7 linked regions of the Homo sapiens genome follow. Changing the gene in region 1 together with any one later gene gives a genetic interaction. Each region holds a gene or a part of one and is shown in the gene's direction. Other genes may lie near its edges. The genes, in order: NF1, CIP2A, LLGL1, PTEN, TYMS, SYT12 and DMAC1.

The links.
Region 2: changes in NF1 (region 1) and CIP2A together harm fitness more than expected from each alone (negative genetic interaction), as found in Homo sapiens cells (one large-scale study listed by BioGRID).
Region 3: changes in NF1 (region 1) and LLGL1 together harm fitness more than expected from each alone (negative genetic interaction), as found in Homo sapiens cells (one large-scale study listed by BioGRID).
Region 4: changes in NF1 (region 1) and PTEN together harm fitness less than expected from each alone (positive genetic interaction), as found in Homo sapiens cells (one large-scale study listed by BioGRID).
Region 5: changes in NF1 (region 1) and TYMS together harm fitness more than expected from each alone (negative genetic interaction), as found in Homo sapiens cells (one large-scale study listed by BioGRID).
Region 6: changes in NF1 (region 1) and SYT12 together harm fitness more than expected from each alone (negative genetic interaction), as found in Homo sapiens cells (one large-scale study listed by BioGRID).
Region 7: changes in NF1 (region 1) and DMAC1 together harm fitness more than expected from each alone (negative genetic interaction), as found in Homo sapiens cells (one large-scale study listed by BioGRID).

The regions. Positions count from the first base shown.
Region 1 is NC_000017.11:31,339,106-31,342,976, forward strand, and holds part of NF1 (neurofibromin), read left to right. Parts: intron 1-1,399; coding exon 1,400-1,540; intron 1,541-3,871. UniProt on the Homo sapiens protein: Stimulates the GTPase activity of Ras. NF1 shows greater affinity for Ras GAP, but lower specific activity. May be a regulator of Ras activity.
Region 2 is NC_000003.12:108,578,999-108,583,271, reverse strand, and holds part of CIP2A (protein CIP2A), read left to right. Parts: intron 1-188; coding exon 189-295; intron 296-1,069; coding exon 1,070-1,164; intron 1,165-1,760; coding exon 1,761-1,857; intron 1,858-3,583; coding exon 3,584-3,706; intron 3,707-3,845; coding exon 3,846-3,991; intron 3,992-4,273.
Region 3 is NC_000017.11:18,231,851-18,236,123, forward strand, and holds part of LLGL1 (lethal(2) giant larvae protein homolog 1), read left to right. Parts: intron 1-644; coding exon 645-726; intron 727-821; coding exon 822-952; intron 953-1,927; coding exon 1,928-2,086; intron 2,087-2,162; coding exon 2,163-2,325; intron 2,326-2,422; coding exon 2,423-2,558; intron 2,559-2,798; coding exon 2,799-2,853; intron 2,854-2,988; coding exon 2,989-3,143; intron 3,144-3,238; coding exon 3,239-3,462; intron 3,463-3,619; coding exon 3,620-3,687; intron 3,688-4,273. UniProt on the Homo sapiens protein: Cortical cytoskeleton protein found in a complex involved in maintaining cell polarity and epithelial integrity. Involved in the regulation of mitotic spindle orientation, proliferation, differentiation and tissue organization of neuroepithelial cells.
Region 4 is NC_000010.11:87,967,738-87,972,010, forward strand, and holds the end of PTEN (phosphatidylinositol 3,4,5-trisphosphate 3-phosphatase and dual-specificity protein phosphatase PTEN), read left to right. Parts: 3' UTR 1-4,193; downstream 4,194-4,273. UniProt on the Homo sapiens protein: Dual-specificity protein phosphatase, dephosphorylating tyrosine-, serine- and threonine-phosphorylated proteins.
Region 5 is NC_000018.10:670,341-674,326, forward strand, and holds the end of TYMS (thymidylate synthase), read left to right. Parts: exon of another isoform or gene 1-351; coding exon 352-527; exon of another isoform or gene 528-1,039; coding exon 1,040-1,111; exon of another isoform or gene 1,112-2,519; coding exon 2,520-2,657; 3' UTR 2,658-3,238; downstream 3,239-3,986. UniProt on the Homo sapiens protein: Catalyzes the reductive methylation of 2'-deoxyuridine 5'-monophosphate (dUMP) to thymidine 5'-monophosphate (dTMP), using the cosubstrate, 5,10- methylenetetrahydrofolate (CH2H4folate) as a 1-carbon donor and reductant and contributes to the de novo mitochondrial thymidylate biosynthesis pathway.
Region 6 is NC_000011.10:67,039,767-67,044,039, forward strand, and holds part of SYT12 (synaptotagmin-12), read left to right. Parts: intron 1-44; coding exon 45-437; intron 438-3,871; coding exon 3,872-4,087; intron 4,088-4,273. UniProt on the Homo sapiens protein: Synaptic vesicle phosphoprotein that enhances spontaneous neurotransmitter release but does not effect induced neurotransmitter release. Unlike other synaptotagmins, it does not bind Ca(2+) or phospholipids.
Region 7 is NC_000009.12:7,796,408-7,801,389, reverse strand, and holds DMAC1 (distal membrane-arm assembly complex protein 1), read left to right. Parts: upstream 1-1,611; 5' UTR 1,612-1,655; coding exon 1,656-1,929; coding exon of another isoform or gene 1,930-1,941; intron 1,942-2,752; coding exon 2,753-2,817; coding exon of another isoform or gene 2,818-2,954; 3' UTR 2,955-4,890; downstream 4,891-4,982. UniProt on the Homo sapiens protein: Required for the assembly of the mitochondrial NADH:ubiquinone oxidoreductase complex (complex I). Involved in the assembly of the distal region of complex I.

The DNA.
Region 1 (3,871 bases):
ACTGTTTTAGGCGCTAGAGATAGAGTACTAACAAAGCCCATAAAACTCACTGCCTTCATGGAGCTTACTTTCTGGGGTGGGTGTGGAGGTTGGGGAGTGAATGGATAATGAAGTAAACAAAATACGTAGTATGTTAGTGATTATTACTATGGAGAAATTAAAGCTGGGAGAAGTATACTTGATCGTCATAAGAGTTTGGGTGCCAAATGAAGATTATATTTAAAAGGAGTAAAATGAAGTGGCCACTGTTTTAGGATGGTCTGACCTTATCCCATTTTTATATTTAAGATATCTGGAAATCATGTTTTTGTATTAATAAAATGAAAAAGATTCGATAATGGCATGGTATTACCATCCAGTTCTAAAGTGGTTTAATTCTGTGATTTGAGTACAAAGGTATGCCAGACTTGGGAGAAATAACAGAGAAATAATACCTGTTATATTCCTGGTTTGTCTACAAGCATTCTAATTTTGTATTATACAAAATGGTTCTCTGGTCCCCATCTTCTAAGTGAAAATGAGCTCAGAAGGGCTAAATAACTTGCCCAAAGTCACATACCTAATAAAAGAACCATGATTCTAATGTGATACTATTTGACTCTAAAGTCCATGTATTTTCCCTAATATCACAGTGCTAAGTAAAGATTGCCAGTAATAAATACTTTTAATTCAGAGCAGCAAGAGATTACCATACTGGTTAAGAGTGACAAGAAGTTGAAAAGACAGTTTAAAATAAAGTTAAAGGGAAACATAGGAGTTAATGTAGGTAGAGAGAAAGGGAGAGAGCTGCACAAGAATGCCAGGACAATGGAGGGAAGGTGGGTAGAACATTCTAGTTGTAATGGAGAAGCTTTTCAAAGGAATCGAGAGAGGGAAAGTTGTGAGGACTGGATAGACCTCATCTCACATTCAGCATTGTTCAAAAGAGTTTGGAAATGTACAGTTTTTAAGCAGACAAGTCATACGATGAAAGCAGGACTTAGCTCCTGGTGGTAGTGTGCACAGTGGATTGGAGTAGGGAGAAACTGAAGTAAAAAGAATCCACCTTTATAATAAAGAAGGTTGGCATGTGGTAATGTCATTAGCAATAAGAAAGAAATGACAAAAGATACAAAAGAGACTACTCTAGAAGAATCAACAAACCTTGGTGACTGGATTTAGAAATCAAAGAACAGGGAGAAGTCAAAGGAGGTGCTAAGTAACGTTCTCAGTCCAGCTAACAGTGTCTTTAGTTATACATATGGAAAAGTGAAGAGCTTACTCATATCTTTATCTTCCCCAAAAGAGAAAACATGGGTAATTTAGGAAGATAAGCTGCTTTATTTTTAACTGCAGTGTGTTTTGAAAGAGACTATGTCATGATTCATCTTACTAGCCTCAAACATATCTTCTTTGCCAGGACTCGCCTCTGCACAAAGCCCTCTTTTGGGTAGCTGTGGCTGTGCTGCAGCTTGATGAGGTCAACTTGTATTCAGCAGGTACCGCACTTCTTGAACAAAACCTGCATACTTTAGATAGTCTCCGTATATTCAATGACAAGGTAAGCAAACTTTGCCTTGAGGTTCCTAGATTACTCAAATTTAGTACTCTTCCATCTTTTCTTGTTGCTATTCTTTTAAAATCACAAGAAGTCCATAACTTAAGTAGGAATTTGTATAATGTAACTTATTGTGAGTATATTTCCTTACCAGCTCATAAAGAACTATGTAAACTTGAATGCATATTTTTTACATAAAAATAGCAAAAAAAAAAAAACAAAAAAAAAACAGTACTGGCCTAATACTAGTAGAATTACAGAATAAGGATAAATAATACATGATCATCCTTACAGAATGAGCATAAACAATACATGGTAATAATATTAATAGCTACCATGCCAGGCCGTATGCTAAACACTATACATTTATTTTTAATTTTCATAACCTTAAGGTAAAGGTTAGCATTCTCTGCCCCCCATTTCACACGTGAAGAAATAATCTAAAAGTAATCTTAGTTTTACTTAATAATGCCACTTAATGAAAAATACGTATAATTCATAGTAGATAAGGAAGTTGGAGAGTCTAAAGGAAACTTTTGGGTACTTAATTTTACTAGTTTTTTTATTCTGTCTAATCTTACTTTAAAATATACCATTAGTGGCCAGGAGTGGTGGCTCATACCTGTAGTCCCAGCACTTTGGGAGGCCAAGACAGGTGGATCAGTTGAGCTCAGGAGTTAGAGAACAGCCTGGGCAACTTGCAAAACCCCATCTCTACAAAAAAGGCAAAAATTAGCTAGGCATGGTGGCATGCACCTACAATCCCAGCTACTCGGGAGGTGAGGTAGGAGGATTGCTTGAGCCTGGGAGGCAGAGGTTGCAGTGAGCTGAGATCACGCCACTGCACTCCAGCTTGGGCAACAGAGCAAGACCCTGTCTCCAAAAAAAAGTGTGTATACATATATTACATACACACATATATATGTAATGTATGTGTATATATATATATAAAGTGTGTGTGTGTGTGTGTGTGTGTGTACACACATAAAATATGTAAAATCCAACTCCAATTAAGGTTAATAAATGTTAGGAGGGGTGCTAATGGGGTGTGTGTGTGTGTGTGCACGTGTGCATGTGTGTGTGTATATATATATGAACATGGGCAAATTACTTCTTAGTTCCTTTCTAATTTGTAAAATGGAGATCTAATTGGGGTTGGATTTTAGTTCATAGAGAATAGAGGAGAGAATAAAATAGTATGAAATTACGTCCCTTTTGTCTTTGGATAAAAATGGGAAGGGTCTAGGAGAAAAGAGGGGAATGTTTTTAAAAGAATGTGTATATACAGTGAGATTTGCTTGAAGTGAAATTAACTGAACTGTGGGTACAAAGAACAGGATTATGGTTTTAAGTGTAAAAAGATACTTGGTCTAAACATTATTAGTTCAGTCTACCAGATGTAGTGTGAACCTGGAACAGATATGGGTCTGAAAAATATAGAAGCAAAATTTTAGAGGTAAGAGGTCTTATGGAGTTTATTAATCAGACCTCCATTTTGCAAATTAGAAAGGAACTAAGAAGTTAAGTAACTTGCCCATGCTTGTACATCTGTTTTGGGACTAGAACCCCTCTGTCCTAATTCTCATTGCCGTTTTTCTAAAACTGTTTTGGGACAGTGGTGGTCAGCGATATCTAGTTGTTGGCTATTTATATGTTAAGAATATTTGCAAATTGGCCGGGTGCAATGGCGCATGTTTGTAATTCCAGCACTCTGGGAGGCCGAGTTGGGAGGATCACTTGAGGTTAGGAGTTCGAGACCAGCCTGGCCAACATGGTGACACCCTGTCTCTACTAAAAATACAAAAATTAGCCAGGGTGGCACATGTTTGTAACTCCAGCGACCTGGGAGGCTGAGGTGGGAAGATCTCTTGAACCCAGGAGGTTGCAGTGAGCCAAGGTGGTGCCACTGCACTCCAGCCTGGGCGACAGAGTAAGACTCCATCTCAAAAAAAGAATATTTGCAAATGGAGCATTGCAAATGGGGCATCTGCCTCGGTATTTTCATCTTCAAAACAGCCCAGTAGCGGGAGCTAATATTGATTCTAGTGCCCTTTGGATGCTAGGCATCAGAGTTAATAAGCATGTTAAAAGTCACCGGGATGTAAATTGACAGTCATTTATTTTGTATTGTAAATAAAAGTGATTTCATCTTCCACCATCTTCTTATTTATATGCTTGACTGTCTTGCACCAGTTAATTTGTAGTAGCTAAAATGTTCTGTGGTTTTCTGCAGTCAACTGAAAATAATTTCTCTCAAATTGAAAGGATTACTTATCTTGTCATACTATTGAACACAAAATTAAGTGAGCCTTTAAAGAAAGCTACTGTGTGAAC
Region 2 (4,273 bases), on another chromosome or scaffold:
ATACTAGTTTATTTTACATAGAGAAATCATTTGAATTTCTGAATTGGAGGGTTATCATAAAGAAAATAAGAAAATAGCCATATCATACCTTTTTTAATAATAAATTCATATGAAATAAATTCTGTATGAATTATCTGCAAAACCTTGTAAGAAAATGATATATTTTGTGCTTTTATTTTAACTTATAGCAGTAGACATTGAAACCAGAGATTGTCTTCAGAATACATATAATCTGAATAGTGTGCTGGCGGGAGTGGTTTGTCGGAGCAGCCACACTGATTCGGTGTTTTTGCAGGTATACAGACCCACACAGTGTATTCCCCTTTCCTTACTGTCAGATCAAAATTGATAGTTTCTGTCATAAACTGCTGACTTACAGTGTATATATGCTATATAATAAATACTACATGATTAGGCACAGTTCATCTCATTAAAAGCTGGTTGCACACATACAATTTAAATGTTTCTAGAGAAGAGAAGCTTATCCATTTCTATCACCACTATTGAAGAAAAACAAATCTACATTATAACTGCTTTGACTTATAAACACAGATGTCTGTGTTTTGAGACATAAGCTATTTATATTAAAATTGTAACGTGAGTTGGCATCTAGTCTCAATCTGTGGAGGAAACGTTCTACAAAAATTAAAGCTGTAGATAGAGTCTATTTAATATAGATTCAAAGCTCTTCATATTTCATTGACTCTAAAATGTCATCAATTGTAAGAAAGAAAAACATCACAAATTAAATTGACATGCAGTTTTAGAGGTGATAAAATGTGAAGAAGGGTATCTTCTAATTGATGGACTACATGTGTGTTTCAAACTGCATTCAAGTTTAAGATGACTAAGTGAACAAGGTTGATAACCATGCTCTGAGACAGAATACGTAGAAATGTGTGAATTGAGAGAAGAGCCCTAAGGTTCTTACATTACTTTACATGTGTTTTTTAAAAAAATTGTTTTAGGAAATGGAAAAGGACATGCTCAGAATGTGCCTGAGAGTCCATTATTTTAAGCAGGCAATGTTTTTATATCTTTATATTTATAACTATTTTCTTATTCTCAGTGCATTCAACTTCTACAGAAGTTAACATATAATGTCAAAATTTTCTATTCTGGTGCCAATATAGATGAATTAATTACGTTCCTGATAGATCACATGTGAGTATGCAATCAAACATAAAACCAAATAGTTTATTTGTTTATTTTTAAATTACAACCATGTGGTAGATTAATTTTTCTTAGATAACATTTTCTAACATATAAACTGAGTGAGACTCCGATTCTTATTTGTTCTGCCCAGATGATTTTAAGGATCAAAAGTTGTAAAAGTATGTGACCTCATTCATTGGTGAAAAAATGTAAAAAGGAAAAAAAAATTGTAAAGCAACTTTAATTTTCATAAGAAAAATTTATGGACTGAATTGATTTGGCCAGAAAAAAATTACTGAAATTGAAAATTGTGTAGTTATTCTTGTAGGAAAATATACTGATGAAACAGCACATGGTCCACGCTGACAGTTACTTCCATGTTTTCATGATGGAATTGAATAGGGTAATTTGGTTTTAAAATGAGATAAATGATCAATACTATTCAAAGCTTCCCTGGCTTCTTATGTTAATTAGTTTTTTTTTTTGCGTGTAAAAGGGAATTGAAATGTATAAACTTAACTATATCATTTTGACTTAGAATAATGTTAATGCTTTTTTTCTTTTACTATTTTTTCTTTAAACAAAACACCAATGTAAAACAACAGTCAATCTTCTGAAGATGAGTTAAAAATGCCTTGTCTAGGATTATTGGCAAATCTTTGTCGGCACAATCTTTCTGTTCAAACGCACATAAAGACATTGGTAAGAAGTTTATTTCTTTTTAATGTTTCTTGTTTTATGGTAGATTCTCTGCTTAAAGAAAATTGTATTTATCTTTTTCTTTAAAACAAATTTGAACAAGGATTCTGTGTCTTATCGGATGACCCATCAAAATTAAGAGTCAGATTGACATACAAATAACTTGAAGCACTTCAGCCTTCGTGTATGTTGTATTGAAGACTGTGTGTTAAGGGTTAATGCAAACACTTATTTCTAAAAGTTTTCCTCAGCATGGCATCCCATTATTTATTACATTGAGTAGTACAAGAATTACTAAATTATTTTGTGCTCTTAGAAGGGAGGCACATCACTGGCAGTCCCATTTATCTCAGTCTTGTGTTTCCACAAAATCAATGGCAACCCCACCAGAAAGATTCATGAGTTAAGTGCTCAGTATGAACCAACAGTACTTGTGATAAATGAAGACACACAAATGAATTTAACTGAATCACTTTTAGAAGTATATTAAATCAGCTGGGCATGGTGGCTCACACCTGTAATCCCAGCACTTTGGAGGCCAAGGCAGGCAGATCACAAGGTCAGGAGATGGAGACCATCTCGGCCAACATGGTGAACCCTGTCTCTACCAAAATACAAAAAATTAGCCAGGCGTGGTGGCACACGCCTGTAGTCCCAGCTACTTGGGAAGCTGAGGCAGGGGAATTGCTTGAACCCGGGAGGTGGAGGTTGGAGTGAGCTGAGATCGCGCCACTGCCCTCCAGCCTGGCAACAGAGTAAGACTCCATCCTTAAAAAAAAAAACAAAGTATATTAAATCAAGCAAGTCACTGATTCTTTAAGGTGCTTGGTGAACAATTTCCCTGCTGTGCTATTCAGCATTACCCGTTCGATTTTAAATTTAATATCTCACTTGTTCAAGTGCTACATTTTTCTGCCCTGGTCTTACTTTGGAGGTGGAGTAACTGTGTGTGTGTGTGTGTGTGTGTGTGTGTGTGTGTGTTTCAATTTCTGAATTGAAAAAAAAGTTCATATGTTCATATTTAGGAAACACTTAAATATAAGGAAGAATAAACATTTGCTCATAGTTTCATGTGTAGAAACTGCTCTTCACCAAGATTGTGGCTATCTATATGACTGTCAGCAATATACGAAACTACCCATCTTGCTCACACATGCAGTGATCTCTTAAATCTAAATGCTAATCAGCAAATATGGCAAAGTTAATTGCTGCTCCACGGTGTGTAACGTAAAACAAATTCTTAAATTTGCTGAATTTTTTTTGCTTCCACCACAATTATGAGAGTTCCTCATTACAGTTCTTTTGTTAACACAAATGCTAACAAATGCTACAGTTCTTTTGTTAACACAAATCCTGCAGTATTTAAGGTAGCTCTTTTGTTTCCACTCTGCATGTGTCCCTTTATTAGAATTGACACCCTGATTTACCATCATTGAATTATTTATTCTAAGGTGACAAAACTTTGGAAATATTTATCTCCAACTCGTTTGCACGCATTTACCAAATTATTTTTTTCTGTAGGTACTCTCTTTATAACAATTTTTGAATTTAAATTTATCTCTGATCTAAATTTCTCCTGTAGAACATTTATCTTTTAAATGCAACAATCATTTAATAGAGTTGATAATGATGTTTAATAAAAGTTTGCCCACTCTGTGCAAGATATACTTTTTAAACCAAAACATAAAATTTATAATTCTAATTTATTTTTTAACTTTTTTTTCCTCAGAGTAATGTGAAATCTTTTTATCGAACTCTTATCACCTTGTTGGCCCATAGTAGTTTAACTGTGGTTGTGTTTGCACTTTCAATATTATCCAGTTTGACATTAAATGAAGAGGTGGGGGAAAAGGTAAATACAATTTTTCAAATTTATTCTGAAGTTTATAGTCTGATATTTTAAAAGTCATTGAGACTTTTTTATTTTTACCTTTTAGGATGGTGTCAACTTAATTTTTTGTCTAATATGCTTTTTCTAATTTGTCCTTAAGCTATTCCATGCTCGAAACATTCATCAGACTTTTCAACTAATATTTAATATTCTCATAAACGGTGATGGCACTCTAACTAGAAAGTATTCAGTTGACCTACTGATGGATCTCCTTAAGAATCCTAAAATTGCTGATTATCTCACCAGGTATGACTCACTTCAGTCAATTTTAGAACTTTTTTATTTTTAAACCAAGATGTGTTGGTTATAAACAGAATTGTCTTCTTAAAATATAATAAACTTGGATTCTACTGATTCACAGTAGACTAAAATGTTTTGATGTGCTTTACTCACACTCTTTTTTCTTTCCTGAACTGAAATGGAAAGTATAACAGGTCATTGTCTATGTGTGTATTTCAGTCTTTGCTTTAGATCAATAGGGTTGTGCCATTCTCCAAAATATAGACATCTTGGCTAATTTATTTTAAA
Region 3 (4,273 bases), about 13 Mb from region 1:
GGTTTCACCATCTTGGCCAGGCTGGTCCTCAACTCCTGACCTTGTGATCTACCTGCCTCGGCCTCCCAAAGTGCTGGGATTACAGGAGCGAGCCACCGTGCCCAGAGGAGGTGGGTTTTCTTACCCATGGCTGAAGTTTGGCCTGAAGCTGTGGGAAAAGGCAGCCTGGACTCTTCTGCCCCCTGGCTTTCTTGTCCAGGCCTGGCCTTGCACCTCTGGCCTGCCTGATCCCATCCGGCAAGGCGCAGCTCCCAGAACCCATAGACACACGGAGCTGAAGTGGAGCGGAGCCCCATCCTCTCACCAGGCTGAGGCCAAGCCTGCTGGGTGTGTTTATTCTCACTTGATCTGCAACAGTCCTGTAAAGTGGGAGTCACTGGCCCAATTTACGGGAAGTGAAGGTCCTATAGCAGCACCTGACTTGCAGGAGTGAGTGGAGCCTGCACACTGATCTTGGGGATACTGTAGGGGTGCAGAGTGGGAGCTTTAGGGAGGGGGCCTCCGTTCTTCAGGGAGGACTCCTGGATGGTCAGGCCCATGCCGGGGCCCACTGGAATAGTCCGGGTCAAGGAGGAGCCTTGGGTGTCTTCCTCACTGTGGTTTGCTGGTCTATGCCTATTTCCACCTTGACCTGCCACCCTCAGCTATGGTGCACCTGGCGTGGAGTTCACAGGCCTGCACCGGGATGCAGCCACTGTCACACAGATGCACTTCTTGACCGGCCAGGTGAGCCTCTGCTTCCCACTAGCCAGCTCCCTGTGGCCCCCATATCTACTCATCCCCCTAGGCCAGCCTAGTTTTCATCTCTGCTCACACACCAGGGCCGCCTCCTGTCCCTGCTTGATGACAGCAGTCTGCATCTCTGGGAGATTGTCCACCATAATGGCTGTGCCCACCTGGAAGAAGCACTCAGTTTCCAGCTGCCCAGCCGGCCCGGCTTTGATGGTGCCAGGTACTGGAGAACTTGGCTGGGGCCAGCCACCGGGCAGGGAGGATCTGGGGGAGGCTGTGGGAACCTGCTGTGCAAAGGCAGCATGGAGATGGGCAGCGGTTCAGGGCGGGATGCCTTGAGCTGGGCCTGGGTCCCAGGCTGCAGCTGTTGGACCCTGCTTTACTGAGGTATACTCTGAACTTTTCAGGTTAAATGGGAGGTTTGGGTTGAGTCCGACGTGAGCAGGTAATTAACATTGTGAGCAGCAGGAGGTACATGCATTATATGCCAAACTTCTAGGACCTGAGGCCTGGCACTACACTTACTGCAATGATGGGGGTGTCTAGGGGTTTGGGGCAGGGCCTAAGCCAGTTAGTAACAGGAAGGGTCCCCTGGCCTCTTCAGTTGTGGGTGGGAGACAGGCCTTTCTGTGCATAGGCAGGGTTGAGGGCAAGGAGGGTCCCATGGGCTGTGCTTGGTAAGGCGCTGGCAGCATGCCCCAGCTGAGTGAGAGTGTGGGGCATCTCTCTCCCCAGCCCTGCCTGAAATAGCTGGAAAAGGGGAGTACCAACCCAGGGATGGATTCCTGATGCCTCCCAGCTTCTGCAGATGGGGGTATCTGGGGCCCTCCTGCGAAGTCAGGAGATGTCTGAGCGCTGGCAGCGGGATTCCTAGGAGGGGCTCAGCGGGGAGCTCCTGGTCCTGGCTTGGGCAGTGCCCTGGTTCCTGCTGTCCTCTCCTGGTGGGTGGGAGGAGCTGGGAGCCCAGTCTGCAAGACCTAGGGACCCTATTTTTATCCATCTCCCTGCTGACATCCTGATGAATAATTGAGCGGGCTGATGATGATGCATGTCTTCCTGGGGTGGCTCTGTAAGTAGGCCCTGGTGAGTGCTGTGGGGCCAGTGATGAGTTATCAGCAGTGGCCCAGCCCCTCACACCCCACCTGAGCAGGTGGATGGGCTTGTACCCTCACTCCCTTCCCCTTGTTCCCTGCAGTGCTCCGCTCAGCCTTACCCGAGTCACAGTGGTCCTGCTGGTGGCTGCCAGCGACATAGCAGCCCTGGGCACTGAGGGCAGCAGTGTCTTCTTCCTGGATGTTACCACCCTGACCCTGCTCGAGGGGCAGACGCTTGCCCCAGGCGAGGTTCTGCGCAGGTAAGAGGCCGGTGGGCTTCCCAGCACCCACTGTGTGCCCGGGAAGTTCTGCTGGCTCACCTGCCTTCCTCCACAGCGTGCCAGACGACTACCGCTGTGGGAAGGCACTGGGCCCCGTGGAGTCACTCCAGGGACACCTGCGGGACCCCACAAAGATTCTCATTGGCTACAGCCGGGGCCTGCTGGTCATCTGGAACCAGGCCTCGCAGTGTGTGGACCACATCTTCCTGGGGAACCAGGTATGTAGGTGAGGCCTGTGTCCCCTCAGCCTGGGCCCCTTGTGCATGCCCACCATGGCTCATGCCTGCCTGCCTGCCTGCCCCTGCCTGCCCGCAGCAGCTGGAGAGCCTATGCTGGGGGCGTGATAGCAGCACTGTGGTCAGCTCACACAGCGATGGCAGCTATGCTGTCTGGTCTGTGGATGCCGGCAGCTTCCCAACGCTGCAGCCCACGGTAGCCACCACACCTTACGGTGAGTGCTGGGGACACCTTAGCCAGAGGGTGGTGATGGGAGGGGGCACCACTGAGCCAAGCCAAACTGGCTGAGGAGGGACTTCCCCGAGGGGGTGGTCTGGGGGCAGTGTGTCTCCCGCCGACTTCCCGGGGAGGCAGGAGGCAGCTGTAAGGTAGAGAGCAGTGGAGGGCAGAGCAGGAATGGCAGAATTGCTAAGAACCACCAGTGAGTCTGGTCTGACGCTGTCCCACCCCTCAGGCCCCTTTCCCTGCAAGGCCATTAACAAGATTCTGTGGCGGAACTGTGAATCTGGGTAGGTCGAGGGAGTGGGTGTCCGATGTGAGTTGGGTCTGGCTAGGGGGCTGGAAGGGTGGGCTCTCCCTAGGTTGTGCAGTATGTGCTCTGGACCCAAGTGGTTCATGGCTCGCACACCTCCCTCTGCACATAGGGGCCACTTTATCATCTTCAGCGGTGGCATGCCCCGTGCCAGCTATGGTGACCGCCACTGTGTAAGTGTGCTTCGAGCCGAGACATTGGTGACGCTGGACTTCACTTCCCGCATCATCGACTTCTTCACAGTGCACAGCACACGGCCCGAGGATGGTGCGTGCCCTGCCGTACCCTACCCTTTCCCAGCCCCACCTGGTGCCCTCTGCCACCTATGGCTGTGCTCACCCCATACTCCCTCCGTCCCACAGAATTTGATGACCCCCAGGCCCTGGCTGTGCTGCTGGAAGAGGAGCTGGTGGTGCTGGACCTGCAGACTCCTGGCTGGCCAGCTGTGCCTGCCCCATACCTGGCCCCGCTGCACTCCTCTGCAATCACTTGCTCGGCCCACGTGGCCAGTGTCCCCGCCAAGCTGTGGGCCCGCATTGTGAGCGCTGGCGAGCAGCAGAGCCCCCAGCCTGTCTCCAGTGCCTTGGTGTGTGCGGCGATCAGGGGGGTCTTACAGGGTGGAGTCTTGAGGAGGGGGAGAGTTTCAGTTCTAAGCCCGGAGGTCAGAATGTGCCATACTCGGGGTGAGAGGGAGAAGATGTTCGTCCTAACCTTGTGCATACATCTCTGCCACCCCCTCCCAGAGCTGGCCCATCACTGGGGGCCGAAACCTGGCCCAGGAGCCGTCACAGCGAGGGCTGCTGCTGACGGGGTAGGTGTGCGTGCTTATGTGGGTGAGTGGGCCCCTTGCTGTTGGGGGAGAGCCCATCCTGGGCCTGGTGGGTGCAGAGGTGCCAGGAGACTCAGGCCTGGCCCCTGGTGGGACCAGGTAGTTCCTCCTTGCCCAAGGTGGTTTGGAATGAAACCTCCCTGGACCTTGGTTCAAGGTGCTGCCCTGATCTGCCTTTTGGCCTGGAACTGAGCTCTACCAAACCCCAGGGCTCCACCCGCCCAGCCTGCCTGCCCTGGGACTGGAAAATCTGGGCTGGCCCACGCTGAGCTGCCCAGGGAAGGTGCCAGAGAGCCCAGCGTGGGCCTGGCGGGCGCTGACGTGCCCAGTGACTCAGGTCTCAACTTCCTGCCCTGCCCCCACTCCCGCCTGTGCTGGGACCCTCAGGCCTCTGACTCTGGTGTGCCCTTCCCTGCTGAAGAGCTTGCCGTGGCTTTCAGGGCTGCTGGAATGAGTCTCAACCACCCCCACAGTCACACACCTCTCACGCCCTGGCTCTGGGCTTTCACCACCGCCTGGGGCCCTGCTTGGACTCTGCAGCTGTGTCCCAAGGCTGCGCCCTAGATTT
Region 4 (4,273 bases), on another chromosome or scaffold:
ATTTTTCCTTTGGAATGTGAAGGTCTGAATGAGGGTTTTGATTTTGAATGTTTCAATGTTTTTGAGAAGCCTTGCTTACATTTTATGGTGTAGTCATTGGAAATGGAAAAATGGCATTATATATATTATATATATAAATATATATTATACATACTCTCCTTACTTTATTTCAGTTACCATCCCCATAGAATTTGACAAGAATTGCTATGACTGAAAGGTTTTCGAGTCCTAATTAAAACTTTATTTATGGCAGTATTCATAATTAGCCTGAAATGCATTCTGTAGGTAATCTCTGAGTTTCTGGAATATTTTCTTAGACTTTTTGGATGTGCAGCAGCTTACATGTCTGAAGTTACTTGAAGGCATCACTTTTAAGAAAGCTTACAGTTGGGCCCTGTACCATCCCAAGTCCTTTGTAGCTCCTCTTGAACATGTTTGCCATACTTTTAAAAGGGTAGTTGAATAAATAGCATCACCATTCTTTGCTGTGGCACAGGTTATAAACTTAAGTGGAGTTTACCGGCAGCATCAAATGTTTCAGCTTTAAAAAATAAAAGTAGGGTACAAGTTTAATGTTTAGTTCTAGAAATTTTGTGCAATATGTTCATAACGATGGCTGTGGTTGCCACAAAGTGCCTCGTTTACCTTTAAATACTGTTAATGTGTCATGCATGCAGATGGAAGGGGTGGAACTGTGCACTAAAGTGGGGGCTTTAACTGTAGTATTTGGCAGAGTTGCCTTCTACCTGCCAGTTCAAAAGTTCAACCTGTTTTCATATAGAATATATATACTAAAAAATTTCAGTCTGTTAAACAGCCTTACTCTGATTCAGCCTCTTCAGATACTCTTGTGCTGTGCAGCAGTGGCTCTGTGTGTAAATGCTATGCACTGAGGATACACAAAAATACCAATATGATGTGTACAGGATAATGCCTCATCCCAATCAGATGTCCATTTGTTATTGTGTTTGTTAACAACCCTTTATCTCTTAGTGTTATAAACTCCACTTAAAACTGATTAAAGTCTCATTCTTGTCATTGTGTGGGTGTTTTATTAAATGAGAGTTTATAATTCAAATTGCTTAAGTCCATTGAAGTTTTAATTAATGGGCAGCCAAATGTGAATACAAAGTTTTCAGTTTTTTTTTTTCCTGCTGTCCTTCAAAGCCTACTGTTTAAAAAAAAAAAAAAAAAAAAACATGGCCTGAGAGTAGAGTATCTGTCTACTCATGTTTAATTAAGGAAAAACACTTATTTTTAGGGCTTTAGTCATCACTTCATAAATTGTATAAGCACATTAAATAGCGTTCTAGTCCTGAAAAAGTCCAAGATTCTTAGAAAATTGTGCATATTTTTATTATGACAGATGTTTGAAGATAATTCCCCAGAATGGATTTGATACTTTAGATTTCAATTTTGTGGCTTTTGTCTATTATTCTGTACTCTGCCATCAGCATATGGAAAGCTTCATTTACTCATCATGACTTGTGCCATATAAAAATTGATATTTCGGAATAGTCTAAAGGACTTTTTGTACTTGAATTTAATCATGTTGTTTCTAATATTCTTAAAAGCTTGAAGACTAAAGCATATCCTTTCAACAAAGCATAGTAAGGTAATAAGAAAGTGTAGTTTGTACAAGTGTTAAAAAAATAAAGTAGACAATGTTACAGTGGGACTTATTATTTCAAGTTTACATTTTCTCCATGTAATTTTTTAAAAAGTAAATGAAAAAATGTGCAATAATGTAAAATATGAAGTGTATGTGTACACACATTTTATTTTTCGGTATCTTGGGTATACGTATGGTTGAAAACTATACTGGAGTCTAAAAGTATTCTAATTTATAAGAAGACATTTTGGTGATGTTTGAAAAATAGAAATGTGCTAGTTTTGTTTTTATATCATGTCCTTTGTACGTTGTAATATGAGCTGGCTTGGTTCAGTAAATGCCATCACCATTTCCATTGAGAATTTAAAACTCACCAGTGTTTAATATGCAGGCTTCCAAAGGCTTATGAAAAAAATCAAGACCCTTAAATCTAGTTAATTTGCTGCTAACATGAAACTCTTTGGTTCTTTTATTTTTGCCAGATAATTAGACACACATCTAAAGCTTAGTCTTAAATGGCTTAAGTGTAGCTATTGATTAGTGCTGTTGCTAGTTCAGAAAGAAATGTTTGTGAATGGAAACAAGAATATTCAGTCCAAACTGTTGTAAGGACAGTACCTGAAAACCAGGAAACAGGATAATGGAAAAAGTCTTTTAAAGATGAAATGTTGGAGCCAACTTTCTTATAGAATTAATTGTATGTGGCTATAGAAAGCCTAATGATTGTTGCTTATTTTTGAGAGCATATTATTCTTTTATGACCATAATCTTGCTGTTTTTCCATCTTCCAAAAGATCTTCCTTCTAATATGTATATCAGAATGTGGGTAGCCAGTCAGACAAATTCATATTGGTTGGTAGCTTTAAAAAGTTTGTAATGTGAAGACAGGAAAGGACAAAATAGTTTGCTTTGGTGGTAGTACTCTGGTTGTTAAGCTAGGTATTTTGAGACTACTTCCCCATCACAACAACAATAAAATAATCACTCATAATCCTATCACCTGGAGACATAGCCATCGTTAATATGTTAGTGACTATACAATCATGTTTTCTTCTGTATATCCATGTATATTCTTTAAAAATGAAATTTATACTGTACCTGATCTCAAAGCTTTTTAGCTTAGTATATCTGTCATGAATTTGTAGGATGTTCCATTGCATCAGAAAACGGACAGTGATTTGATTACTTTCTAATGCCACAGATGCAGATTACATGTAGTTATTGAGAATCCTTTCGAATTCAGTGGCTTAATCATGAATGTCTAAATATTGTTGACATTAGGATGATACATGTAAATTAAAGTTACATTTGTTTAGCATAGACAAGCTTAACATTGTAGATGTTTCTCTTCAAAAATCATCTTAAACATTTGCATTTGGAATTGTGTTAAATAGAATGTGTGAAACACTGTATTAGTAAACTTCATCACCTTTCTACTTCCTTATAGTTTGAACTTTTCAGTTTTTGTAGTTCCCAAACAGTTGCTCAATTTAGAGCAAATTAATTTAACACCTGCCAAAAAAAGGCTGCTGTTGGCTTATCAGTTGTCTTTAAATTCAAATGCTCATGTGACTTTTATCACATCAAAAAATATTTCATTAATGATTCACCTTTAGCTCTGAAAATTACCGCGTTTAGTAATTATAGTGGGCTTATAAAAACATGCAACTCTTTTTGATAGTTATTTGAGAATTTTGGTGAAAAATATTTAGCTGAGGGCAGTATAGAACTTATAAACCAATATATTGATATTTTTAAAACATTTTTACATATAAGTAAACTGCCATCTTTGAGCATAACTACATTTAAAAATAAAGCTGCATATTTTTAAATCAAGTGTTTAACAAGAATTTATATTTTTTATTTTTTAAAATTAAAAATAATTTATATTTCCTCTGTTGCATGAGGATTCTCATCTGTGCTTATAATGGTTAGAGATTTTATTTGTGTGGAATGAAGTGAGGCTTGTAGTCATGGTTCTAGTGTTTCAGTTTGCCAAGTCTGTTTACTGCAGTGAAATTCATCAAATGTTTCAGTGTGGTTTTCTGTAGCCTATCATTTACTGGCTATTTTTTTATGTACACCTTTAGGATTTTCTGCCTACTCTATCCAGTTGTCCAAATGATATCCTACATTTTACAAATGCCCTTTCAGTTTCTATTTTCTTTTTCCATTAAATTGCCCTCATGTCCTAATGTGCAGTTTGTAAGTGTGTGTGTGTGTGTCTGTGTGTGTGTGAATTTGATTTTCAAGAGTGCTAGACTTCCAATTTGAGAGATTAAATAATTTAATTCAGGCAAACATTTTTCATTGGAATTTCACAGTTCATTGTAATGAAAATGTTAATCCTGGATGACCTTTGACATACAGTAATGAATCTTGGATATTAATGAATTTGTTAGTAGCATCTTGATGTGTGTTTTAATGAGTTATTTTCAAAGTTGTGCATTAAACCAAAGTTGGCATACTGGAAGTGTTTATATCAAGTTCCATTTGGCTACTGATGGACAAAAAATAGAAATGCCTTCCTATGGAGAGTATTTTTCCTTTAAAAAATTAAAAAGGTTAATTATTTTGACTATTCGGTTTTAAACTTTTTATTCAACAAATACCAAGTCCCTGCTGTATATATGGGTTTGGAATACATTAGTGATCAAAACA
Region 5 (3,986 bases), on another chromosome or scaffold:
TTTAATATAGGAGGGTGTACCAGAAGCACCAGTTTCCTGTGGCAAACAGAATTATTCCTGCTGTATTTGTAATCTGGTGCCACGAGGTAGCCCAGATCCCTTCAGCTCTGATGGAAGAGCATTGCTTCAGCCGTAAATGGACACCTGCAGAAACCTTGCACCGATGGATAGTCTCCCTCAGCTCCGTGCCATCGCTGCAGAGGCTGTTATGGACATCACTGCAGCCCAGTGGCTCTCTCTCCTGGTCTCCACCATATGAGTTGGCTTCTGTTTCTCTCCTGTTTTACTTTGCCTTTAGCTGTGGTCTTTCAAACCACCATCCCTCCTTATCTTCCTCTGCTGGTTCCTCAGATCTTCCTCTGATGGCGCTGCCTCCATGCCATGCCCTCTGCCAGTTCTATGTGGTGAACAGTGAGCTGTCCTGCCAGCTGTACCAGAGATCGGGAGACATGGGCCTCGGTGTGCCTTTCAACATCGCCAGCTACGCCCTGCTCACGTACATGATTGCGCACATCACGGGCCTGAAGGTGGGCTGTCTCGGGAAGGGTGACTTGCCAGCCTACCACACTGAGCTCTTCAGTTCTTTAATATGGGAAAACAAATTGCAGAGTTTAGTCTCTGATTAGCTTTTAAATTTGATATGTGTAAGTAAGAAATGAACCAGCTTTTACTTTGAAACCTTCCTCTTCTGGAAGGTTTTCTGGCCCTGTGGTATACGCACTAACAGATCTATACAGGTTGTTTGTGATACAGCTTCTATGGATTTTCTCAAAAGCTATGCTGAGGTTGGGTATGGTGGCTCATGCCTGTAATCCCAGCACTTTGGGAGACTGAGACAGGAGCAATTGCTTGAGGTCTGGAGTTCAATACCAGCCTGGGCAACATAACAAGATGCTGTTGCTACAAAAAAATGGAAAAGCTACACTAAATTATTTTTTTAAAAAAAGCCTTGCGGTGTCTGCATATTCTAATGTTTTTAAATGATGTTTTAAAGAATTGAAACTAACATACTGTTCTGCTTTCTCCCCCGGGTTTATAGCCAGGTGACTTTATACACACTTTGGGAGATGCACATATTTACCTGAATCACATCGAGCCACTGAAAATTCAGGTAAGAATTAGATGTTATACTTTTGGGTTTGGTACCTTCTCTTGATAAAAGGTTGACTGTGGAACAGGCATCTGCTCAATGCTGTGTCCAAGATAAAGATGACTGCTCCAAATGTGGGGCTTCAGTTTAGGGAGAAGTGGTGGGCAGGTGGGCAGGACAAGGCAGGCATCTGCCTCAGCAACCATGGGCACTTAACATGTCAGGTGCTGTGAGGTACTAAGCACCAGTACCAGAGAGGGAAGAGCCACATTCAAGCCAGGGGATTGTCCAAAAGGGGGCATTTTAACTCATTTTAACTTGAAGGAGAATTGAAGTGCAAATGTTTTTCCTTTTCTTTTTTTTTTGAGATGGAGTCTTTCTCTGTCGGCCAGGCTGGAGTGTGCCGTGGTGCGATCTCAGCTCACTGCAACCTCCACCTCCCGGGTTCAAGCAATTCTTCTGCCTCAGCCTCCCAGGTAGCTGGGATTACAGGCACATGCCACCACACCCAGCTAATTTTTGTATTATTAGTAGAGATGGGGTTTCATCATGTTGGCCAGGCTAGTCTCAAACTCCTGACTTCAAGTGATCCACCTGCCTCAGCCTCCGAAAATTCTGGAATTACAGGCATAAGCCACCACCCTGGCCATAAATATTTTTTGTTAATTTTACATTAAGTACAATATTTAGGTCCAAACTTCAAAAGTCTGTTGAAATCCCTAAGTTATAGCAGCCAACAATTGATATGAAATGGCAATAAAAATGTAAGTTCATCTGCTTCATGAGCCTTAAGGAAAAAAACTCAGAACCAGACACTTTTTAGCCCCTTCCAGGTTAGATCCAGGTTTTAAAAGTTACTCCTTTGAGGGAGTTTGGCTGCTTTTGAGTGGAGGTGACTTCAGGCTTATTCTCTCTGGCTCTCTGCTCTGGTCGTTTTTAGACATAGTAATAGGTTGTGACCTGTCTTCACATCCTAATTGCCACTGTCTGTTCATCCCAGGAATCCTGGCTTTCATCCCTTTCTGTTCACTGTCCATGCATGTCATCTTTCCTTCTTTCTGCCAGGGACAGATGGGTTAGGGATTGTGGAATTCAAGTAAACGTAGAGCTACTATGAGTTACAGATTGACTGTGTTCCTGTCTTTAATAAATTTGCCAAGAGTGGTTATAAGAACTTACACCTGATGAGGCACCAGGCTCCTGATGCTGTGTAATGTCACAAAATACCCCTCACTCTCGATCTGTGCAAGAGAACAGCTGGTTGCGCTCCAATCATGTTACATAACCTACGGCAAGGTATCGACAGGATCATACTCCTGTAAAATAGAACTTTGTTGATCACATCCTGTGTACTTGTTTCACGGACATGAGGAGCAATTACAACAGGTCGTACAATTATGGCAAAATAATGGCCTTATTTTGTTTTTAGCTTCAGCGAGAACCCAGACCTTTCCCAAAGCTCAGGATTCTTCGAAAAGTTGAGAAAATTGATGACTTCAAAGCTGAAGACTTTCAGATTGAAGGGTACAATCCGCATCCAACTATTAAAATGGAAATGGCTGTTTAGGGTGCTTTCAAAGGAGCTCGAAGGATATTGTCAGTCTTTAGGGGTTGGGCTGGATGCCGAGGTAAAAGTTCTTTTTGCTCTAAAAGAAAAAGGAACTAGGTCAAAAATCTGTCCGTGACCTATCAGTTATTAATTTTTAAGGATGTTGCCACTGGCAAATGTAACTGTGCCAGTTCTTTCCATAATAAAAGGCTTTGAGTTAACTCACTGAGGGTATCTGACAATGCTGAGGTTATGAACAAAGTGAGGAGAATGAAATGTATGTGCTCTTAGCAAAAACATGTATGTGCATTTCAATCCCACGTACTTATAAAGAAGGTTGGTGAATTTCACAAGCTATTTTTGGAATATTTTTAGAATATTTTAAGAATTTCACAAGCTATTCCCTCAAATCTGAGGGAGCTGAGTAACACCATCGATCATGATGTAGAGTGTGGTTATGAACTTTAAAGTTATAGTTGTTTTATATGTTGCTATAATAAAGAAGTGTTCTGCATTCGTCCACGCTTTGTTCATTCTGTACTGCCACTTATCTGCTCAGTTCCTTCCTAAAATAGATTAAAGAACTCTCCTTAAGTAAACATGTGCTGTATTCTGGTTTGGATGCTACTTAAAAGAGTATATTTTAGAAATAATAGTGAATATATTTTGCCCTATTTTTCTCATTTTAACTGCATCTTATCCTCAAAATATAATGACCATTTAGGATAGAGTTTTTTTTTTTTTTTTTTAAACTTTTATAACCTTAAAGGGTTATTTTAAAATAATCTATGGACTACCATTTTGCCCTCATTAGCTTCAGCATGGTGTGACTTCTCTAATAATATGCTTAGATTAAGCAAGGAAAAGATGCAAAACCACTTCGGGGTTAATCAGTGAAATATTTTTCCCTTCGTTGCATACCAGATACCCCCGGTGTTGCACGACTATTTTTATTCTGCTAATTTATGACAAGTGTTAAACAGAACAAGGAATTATTCCAACAAGTTATGCAACATGTTGCTTATTTTCAAATTACAGTTTAATGTCTAGGTGCCAGCCCTTGATATAGCTATTTTTGTAAGAACATCCTCCTGGACTTTGGGTTAGTTAAATCTAAACTTATTTAAGGATTAAGTAGGATAACGTGCATTGATTTGCTAAAAGAATCAAGTAATAATTACTTAGCTGATTCCTGAGGGTGGTATGACTTCTAGCTGAACTCATCTTGATCGGTAGGATTTTTTAAATCCATTTTTGTAAAACTATTTCCAAGAAATTTTAAGCCCTTTCACTTCAGAAAGAAAAAAGTTGTTGGGGCTGAGCACTTAATTTTCTTGAGCAGGAAGG
Region 6 (4,273 bases), on another chromosome or scaffold:
TATGGCCCCCATGATGCTCCCACGTCCCTCTTTCTCACCCCTAGAGAGTGCCTGCCTGGAATGCCCAGCGGGCCAGCACGCGGGGACCACCCAGCCGCAAAGGCAGTCTCAGCATTGAGGACACCTTTGAGAGCATCAGTGAACTGGGGCCTCTGGAGCTGATGGGCCGGGAGTTGGACCTGGCCCCCTATGGGACCCTCCGGAAGTCCCAGTCGGCCGACTCCCTGAACTCCATCTCCTCCGTGAGCAACACCTTTGGGCAGGACTTCACACTGGGCCAGGTGGAGGTGAGCATGGAGTACGACACTGCCTCCCACACGCTGAACGTGGCGGTGATGCAGGGCAAGGACCTCCTGGAGCGGGAGGAGGCCAGCTTCGAGTCCTGCTTCATGCGCGTCAGCCTGCTGCCGGACGAGCAGATCGTGGGCATTTCTCGGGTAAGTGGGGCTCAGGGCGGGGCAGAAGGGTGCTCTGGGCTCACTAGATGCCTCCCAGGCAGGCATGGCGGTGGGGCCCGGCAGGATCCCAGAAAGGCAGTAGAGTGCAAGTATGGATGCTGATCCCAGAGCTGAAGCTTCAGACTGTAGAGGGAGCTCTGTACAGAGCTGGGAGGTGGGGGGCTCCACCTGAAGGCTCCCATTGTGTGGAGTTCTTAGCGGTCCCACCAGGTGAATACAGAATGTGGCAACTGTCGTTGTCCACATCTGCCCTGTGTCAACATGGGGTCCCGGCAGAAAAGGGATGACATGCTTAAGAAGGCTAATTTGGGGAGGGCTTAATAACAGGACTGGGGCTGGTTGTGGTGGCTCATGCCTCTAATCTCAGCACTTTGGGAGGCCGAGGCGGGCAGATCATGAGGTCAGGAGATCGAGACCATCCTGCCTAACACGGTGAAACCCCATCTCTACTAAAATACAAAAAATTAGCCGGGCGTGGTGGCGGGCACCTGTAGTCCCAGCTACTCGGGAGGCTGAGGCAGGAGAATGGCGTGAACCTGGGAGGCAGAGCTTGCAGTGAGCCGAGATCGTGCCACTGCACTCCAGCCTGGGCGACAGAGGGAGACTCTGTCTCAAAATAAATAAATAAATAAAAATAAAACAGGACTGTCCAGGTACAGTGATTCATGCCTGTAATCCCAGCACTTTGGGAGGCCAAGGTGGGAGGATTGCTTGAGCCTAACCAGGAGTTCAAGGCCAGCCTAGGCAACATGGCAAAACTCCTTCTCTACCAAAAAAAATAAAATAAAATAAAATAAATTAGCTGGCTGTGGTAGTGCCAGCTAATTTATAGTCCCAGCTACTTGGGAGGCTGAGATGGGAGGATCACTTGAGCCCAGGAGGTTGAGGCTGCAATGAGCCACGATTGCACCACTGCACTCCAGCCTGGGTGACAGAATGAGACCCTATCTCAAAAAATAAAAATAGGGCCAGGTGCAGTGGCTCACACCTGTAATCCCAGCCCTTTGGAGGCTGAGGCAGGTGGATCACCTGAGGTCAGATGTTTGAGACCAGCCTGGCCAATATGGTGAAACCCCGTCTCTACTAAAAATACAAAAATTAGCAGGGCATGTGGTGCACACCTGTAATCCCAGCTATTGAGGTGGCTGAGGCAGGAGAATTGCATGAACTCAGGAGGCGGAGGTTGCAATGAGCCGAGATCATGCCACTGCACTCCAGCCTGGGCGACAGAGTGAGACTCCGTCTCAAAAATAATAAATAAATAAATAAATTTTAAAAATGAAAATAATAAGACCATTTAGAGTGGTGCGGATGGGGTGTGGGGCAGCCTCAGGGATGGCATGGTACCCTGGAAGGGCGTAACAGGAGGGGCTGTCCCACTCTAGATCTGAAGGGGTGAGGGGAAGGTGAGGTTACTGGGCCCAAAAGGATAGAGGGCCACCTTGTGTGGAGAGGGCTACCTTGGTGGAAGCTCTGCCCTTTGGCCAAGGGACATGGTCATCCCGCAACAATACTGCAGAGAGGGACTTCCCTCCCCCTCCAGTTTCCTTCTGGTGACCTCCACTGGCTGACCCAACCAGAAGCCAAAGGCCAAGGGAACCTGTTGACACAGCCCATGGAGGTCAACTCTCAGGGCCAGAGCAGAGGGGGGAAGGGTGGAGAATAAAGCGTGAGGGGCAGGGAAGGTGCCCAGTCCCTTAGGCTACCCTCCACACATCGCTGTAACTCACAGAACCAAGCCAACAGAGCCACATCTGGGCTGAAGGGTGGGGATAGCCTGTGAGCAGAGTGCGAGGAGGGCGTGTTTAGGGCATCAAGTTGGGGTGGCCCAGCTTCTGAGAGGCAGTATAGTGGGCGATTAGGAGCAGGACCCTGGAGCCTGACTGCCTGGGTTCAAATCCTTGTTCCACCTCTTCCTAGCAGTATGATCTTGGTTAAGTCAGTTTAGTACCCCATGACTCCGTTTCCCCATCTGTCAAATGGGCATCATGGTTATTGAGGAAGAGATGGGTTAATGTATGTGAAGTTCTTAGCCCAGCCTGGGTCAGTGCCTAGCAGGTTGGCTCTCAGGACCGTGCAGAGCTCCTGTCGTGCCCAGCCATGTTGCCTGTGGTTTGGGGACGCATTCCTTGAGGAGAGACATTGGCAGACAGCAGCCGCCACAGCCTGATGTGTGCTGAGAACCTGGTTCACAGAGCCCAGTGCATCCATGATTCTCTCATTAGCCCCTGACGCCAACAGGACAGATTGTTAGGGCATCTTACAGATGAGGAAACCGAGGCTCGGGAAAGTGCTTTGCCCAAGACAACGCCAGTAAGGAAGCAGGAGGTCCAGGACTCAAACCCAGGGTTCCATCCTCCTCCACCCATGTGCACATAAAGCACACGCTCAGAGAATGGCTGGTTGGGGAGCCCAGGCCCCCATGAGCAGGGGACAGCTGAGAGGCTAATTTAGCCGAAGGAGGGAGAGGCAGAGCCAGATCATGAAGAGCCTGAATGCCGAGGTCAGGAGGTCAGGAGGCCAGGTGGGCTTTATCACTTGGGGGCAAGGAGCCCTTCAAGAGCAGGGGATTGTGTAGGGAACGTGAGCACTGTGCGAGGAGCCTTCCCACACCCAGGCAGTGACAGAAGAGTGTGGTCATGGTGGCCGGTGGCGCTGGGGGATTTATTCCAGGGAAGGCAAGCTTCCCAGCTTAACAGCCTGGGCAATCCCACCAGGGGGTGCTGCCCCCAGGCTAGGCAGCCCCCCAGCCTCAGGCAGGGTCCAGGGATGAGAGCGCCTTTCTTTAAATATCACCAGGCAGTGACTAAAGCATCCCCCTTATTCCCCAGAGACAGAGCCCGCAATGCACCTTCCCAGGGGGCCTGCCCACAACTTCCTGGGAGGAGGTCAGTGGTGCCCACCAGGCAGGACTGGGCTTGGAAACCGAGTTGGCCCAACCTCGCCTAGTCCTCCCTTCCATCCACCCATCCAGCCTACGGTGTTCAAACAGTCCTGGGCCAGGCTCTGCAGGAACCTGGGACGTCAGTGGCTCGTGACTCCACAGGCAACTGTCCCACTCCACTGCTTGCCTGGCCTAGGGCTAGACTCGAACAGATGCAAGAAAGATGGAGACCAGCTCGTCCAGGGCATCTTGAGGGTTCTGGGGTGCCACGGGCACTGAGGACGGAAATTAGTTGGGATCAGATTGTGGGAGCTTAAAACGCCAGGCCACTAGATTGGCCGCCACTGAGGAGAGGACAGGAGGCTTTTAAACCTTCAAGGCTGAGCCACCAAAGGAAAGATTGGCATTGAGGGTGTCAAGACAACAGAGCCAGGACTCTAGCCTGGGCCTCTGGACTCCCTGTCCAGTGCTGTCTCCCTGCTGTGGCCTCTCAGGCCCCTAGCGCCCTCCATGGCCTTTTCTCCTGCAGATCCAGAGAAATGCCTACTCCATCTTCTTTGATGAGAAGTTCTCCATCCCCCTGGATCCCACAGCCCTGGAGGAGAAGAGCCTGCGGTTTTCTGTATTTGGCATCGATGAGGATGAGCGCAACGTCAGCACGGGGGTGGTGGAGCTGAAGCTTTCTGTGCTTGACCTCCCGCTGCAGCCCTTCAGTGGCTGGCTCTATTTACAGGACCAGAACAAGGTAAGTGACTTGCCTGCTCGTCCACCTCGGAAGAGCGTGCACACACATACACTTCCAGGAAGGGACTCCATCATCCTCATCATCCTCTGCAATAGCCTGAGCCCCATCATCATTAGGAGAGCAGAGAAGAAGACCTGAGCCACATCCGAGGAAACTGCTTGCTGCAGGCAAATTTCAAAAACATCC
Region 7 (4,982 bases), on another chromosome or scaffold:
GGCTCTTGCAGCCTTACAATCAGAGATAATGATTTCTCTGATGAATCTGGTTAAAGTAAATTGAAAACCTTCTGGGAAAGATTCACCATTCTGATGCCATTAAGAATATCTGTGACTCATGGGAGGAGATCAAAATATCCCTAACTGGATATTGGAAGAAATTGATTCCAATCTTTATGAACAACTAAGAAGGGTTCAAGATTTCAGATGAGGGAAGTAACAGCAGATGTGGTGGAAATAGCAAGAGAACTAGAATTAGAAGTGGAGCCTGATGATGTGACTGAATTGCCACAATCTCATGATAAAACTTGAACAGATGAGGGGTTACTTCCTATGGATGAAGAAAGTGGTTTTTTGAGACGGAATCTACTCCTGGTGAAGATGCTATGAACATTGTCAAAATGTTGGATAAAGGGCTCCAATTTTGAAAGACGTTATATAGTGGTTATTAAAATGCTATAAAACGGCATTGCATGTTGCAAAAAAATCTTTCGTAAAAGGAAGAGTCAATTCTTGCAGAAAATTTCATTATTGTCTTATTTTAAGAAATTGGCACAGTTACCCCAACCTTCAGCAACCACTACCTTGATCAGTCAGCAGCCATCACCATCAAGGCCAGACCCTCCACCAGCAAAAAGATTAGAAGTGGCCAGGTGCGGTGGCTCATGCCTGTAATCCCAGCACTTTGAGAGGCCAAGGCAGGTGGATTACCTGAGGTCAGGAGTTTGAGAATAGCCTAGCCAACATGGTGAAACCCCGTCTCTACTAAAAATACAAAAAAATTAGCCAGGCGTGGTGGCAGGCATCTGTAATCCAAGCTACTCGAGAGGCTGAGGCAGGAGAATCACTTGAACCCGGGAGGCGGAAGTTGCAGTGAGCCGAGATTGTGCCATTGCACTGGGCAGTCTGGGCAACAAGAGCAAAACTCCACCTCAAAAAAAAAAAAAAAAAAAAGATTAGGATTTACTGAAGGCTAAGGTAATCGTTACCATTTTTTGGGCAAGATGTTTTTTAAATTAAGATATATATACTGTTTTTTAGACACAATGCTACTGCACATTTAATAGACTACAGTATAAACAACTTTTATATGCACGGAGAAACCAAAAAAAAATTGCATGGCTTGCTTTATCGAGATATTTGCTGTATTGTGTTGGTCTAGAACCAAACCTGCAATCGCTATGGTATGTCTGTATCTAGCACATGATTATGCACATATAAAACCCAACTCCTTGATTCACAGGCCTCTGGATAGGAGATATGACATGCCCAAGGTCTCGCAGTTCATGTGAGGCAGGAAACTTAAGAGAGCCAGACTTCTTTAAGGAGACTGAAAGGTGATTCATTTAGTGAGTAGCGATTACAGAATTTCTAAAACAGTGGGGGCGGGGGGGGCGGCGGGGAGGAGGGCTGGAATTGTCCTCCAGCGCATACAAGGTTGTTGCTGCCAGAGAAATCCAGCAGGAAAGAGCAGCATTCTTTCACCTTTTCCGCCTCTGAAGCGGAGGAGAACTTCATTTCCCAGCAGCCCTTAAGATTCCTCCGCGCACTGCGCTAGCGTCCCGGCATTCTGCTTTCCGGCGCTCTGCCTTCCGGTGCGTCGTTTACGCCAGTTTGAACCAAAGACGCCCAAGGTTGAGGCCGAGTTCCAGAGCATGGGGTCTCGGTTGTCCCAGCCTTTTGAGTCCTATATCACTGCGCCTCCCGGTACCGCCGCCGCGCCCGCCAAACCTGCGCCCCCAGCTACACCCGGAGCGCCGACCTCCCCAGCAGAACACCGCCTGTTGAAGACCTGCTGGAGCTGTCGCGTGCTTTCTGGGTTGGGGCTGATGGGGGCGGGCGGGTACGTGTACTGGGTGGCACGGAAGCCCATGAAGATGGGATACCCCCCGAGTCCATGGACCATTACGCAGATGGTCATCGGCCTCAGTGAGAATCAAGGCACAGCACTTGGGCGGGTTGGGTATCTGCGGGGTAGAGGAAGGAAACGGAGCAGCCACGTGGGCGGGGAGGCGGGGAGGCGGGGTGCTGCCGCTGGTCAGGTGGTGGGGGCACCTCAAACAAGGTGGGAGAGGAAGTTGTTGGAACGCCTTTCTTTTTTTTTTTTTAATTTTAAGTTAGTATTTCTTGAGAACCCTTATTAGACTCAGCCCTTTTAATTCTCAGAATAGCTGTTAGAAGTAGGTATGATTATAGTATTTACTGTGGAGCAAACCGAGGCAACGAGGAGTATTGTGTTCATGGTCAGGAAATGACAGTCACTTGATCCCAGGTATATCAGATCTCAAAGCCCATACTTTTTCTCCAGGTCCTGGAGAAAGCCTGAGCGAGGGCCCTTGACCTTAATTTAAGAAATTTGCCTTGAATCCCAGATCTTTAGACGTGGATTCTAAGCTCACCTACTTGGTACACCTGGGTAATGTGGCCCACAGCCCCGTTCTGTGATCGTCAAGATGTCATCCAATCAAACGTCATGATTTTTTTAGCTTTCAAACCGATTGTCAGTGAATAGAATTTTAGGTTTCTAACTGTCTTACCTTCTTGATCCTGTATAGGTAAATTCTCCTACAGGATATTCTTTTTTTTCCTGATTTTTTTTTCTTTTTCTGTGCTTCACTTGCCTTATAAGAAAGATACAATGGTAATATATCCTCCAGAAGTGTTGTGAGGGTTAAATAAGATGGCGTATATGTGAAACACTTGGTAAATTTAAATGCAGCATAAAGGTAAGGTATTGTTGTTTTTTTTCTAGGCATTGCCACCTGGGGTATCGTTGTCATGGCAGACCCCAAAGGGAAGGCCTACCGCGTTGTTTGAAAGTACCACCAGTGAATCTGTCTTCTGTCTCTGTCCCTTTCCCCGTGACACACACAGCAGGCATGGAATTTAATGGGTGTTCTGGACAGACACTTGTACATGGACAGACATCACTACTGTGGATACTACAAGACTGAGAAGAAAATCGTATGTTGTCATTCTCTGGCTATGGAGTGTTTGTGGCCTTCACAGATTTCACAGGAACCAATAAATCCCTCAGAGAAGTAAACAGGTTCTTTGTCTTATCTGGGGAAGGAAAGTATAACTTATATTTAAATATAATTGCTTAATTAAGCATTATATATAAACATAATAGTATGTCTTATATAATTGCATGTCATATTATATATAATAAACATAAATATGTTTAGTTATATAGTTAGTATAATTTTTAAAACTTTTAAATACAGCATATGGTAAACCAACGGGAAAATTAGCTATTTTACTTCATTATTTTAAAGAGTTCTTTTTATTTCTTTCATAATTGGATCAACAACTGTTAACCTAACCCTGGGTGGGCATCATGCAATATATAGAAGTACGTGAAATTTTCTGTGTATGAATTGCTGATACTTTGCAAGGCATTTTCAAATCCATCACCTTATGAGAGCTTCACAGCTAGTCTGAGGTAGTTACTTCATTGGAGGTAAAACTTAAAACACAAGAAAGAGCCCACATGATTTGCCTAGGGTCATTCAGTAAGTCCGTGATGGAGCTAGAACTTGTTCTTGTCAGTTTTTTGTTCTAGTCTTCCCTTTCATGGAGGCAAGAATAACCATTATGAAACAGTTAGATAATCATAAAAATCAGCATACAATAAAAGACTTAAATGTCACAAGAAAAATTCAAAACCTTTAGCTAAAAAAAAAAAAGATCTTTTGATTCTTTTTCCACAAGCACTAGATATGTTTCTGTGATGATTTTGAGATAAGTACTCAAAATTACATAGTTCATTTCTAAGAGAAGGCCATGTTTTCTACCTATTGGGTTTTTCTACCCTGAGATACTATGGCTTCTTTGTAAAGGTATATAAAGTGTTTTTCAAAGCGGAAAGATACTGTTAAATTCAGCTGCTAATCATAGTGTATTTGTTTGGAATGACATGTTGAGCAGGTAGTACCTTTACGGCTGTTGCTTTTTGCAGCATTATGTGGAAGTGCCTAAGTCTATTTAGCCTCACAGATGACTTTAGAATCTTGTATTTTCTACATCAGAGTTCATAGCGGGGATGGTGCTACATATATCTATGCAACTGAAAAAGAAAACATTTCAAACCTAAAGTACGCAACAAGATATTATTTATATGAAATCCATAGCTCAGTTATGCTATGTTCATGAATAGAGAAGTTTTAAGTTGGAAGGGACCATGGATGACCCAAAGCAGATACATATGGTCATTCATATACCTAAAATACCTACAAAGACAAGTTGTTCCCTGGTTTAAAAGGCAGTCTGTTCTATTGATGGACTGCTTTAGTCCCTGAACATTTTCTTTGGTTAAACCAAAAACACATAAACCTAACTTGGTCTTGGCTTGATCTACTGGGTAAATAATAACTCTTAAATATATATACAGTTGACCCTTGGACAACACAGGAGTTAAGAGCGCTGAACATTTGCTCAGTGGAGAATCTGCATATAACCTGACTCCTCAAAAACTTAATTAGTAGTTAGTTTACAATTGACTGGAAGCCTTATTGATAACATAAAGCAGTTGATTAACACATTTTTTGTGTTGTATGTATTATATTCCGTATTCTTACAAGAAGGTAAGCTAGAGAAAAAAAAAATGTTATTAAGGAAGTAATATATTCACTATTCGTTAGGTAGAAGTGAATCATCCTAAAGGTCTTCATCCTCATCTTCACGCTGAGTAGTCTGAGGAGCAAGAGGAGTTGGTCTTTCTGTCCCAGTGGCAGAGGTGGAAGAAAATCCACAGATACGTGGACCTGCGCAGTTCAAACCTGTGTTGTTTGGGTCAACTGTATTGTAATAGCATTTTAATGTTTTTCTCAGACTTTTACGAGTATGAATCTGAGCTTTTTCTGAATAAACCTGCCTGCTCACCATTAATAATGCCAAAGTGTGTTTGGTTCTTTCCATCTTGGAATAATTTAACTAAGTATGGGCAAAATATTGTTCTACCATGTCTATAATGTGGGAAG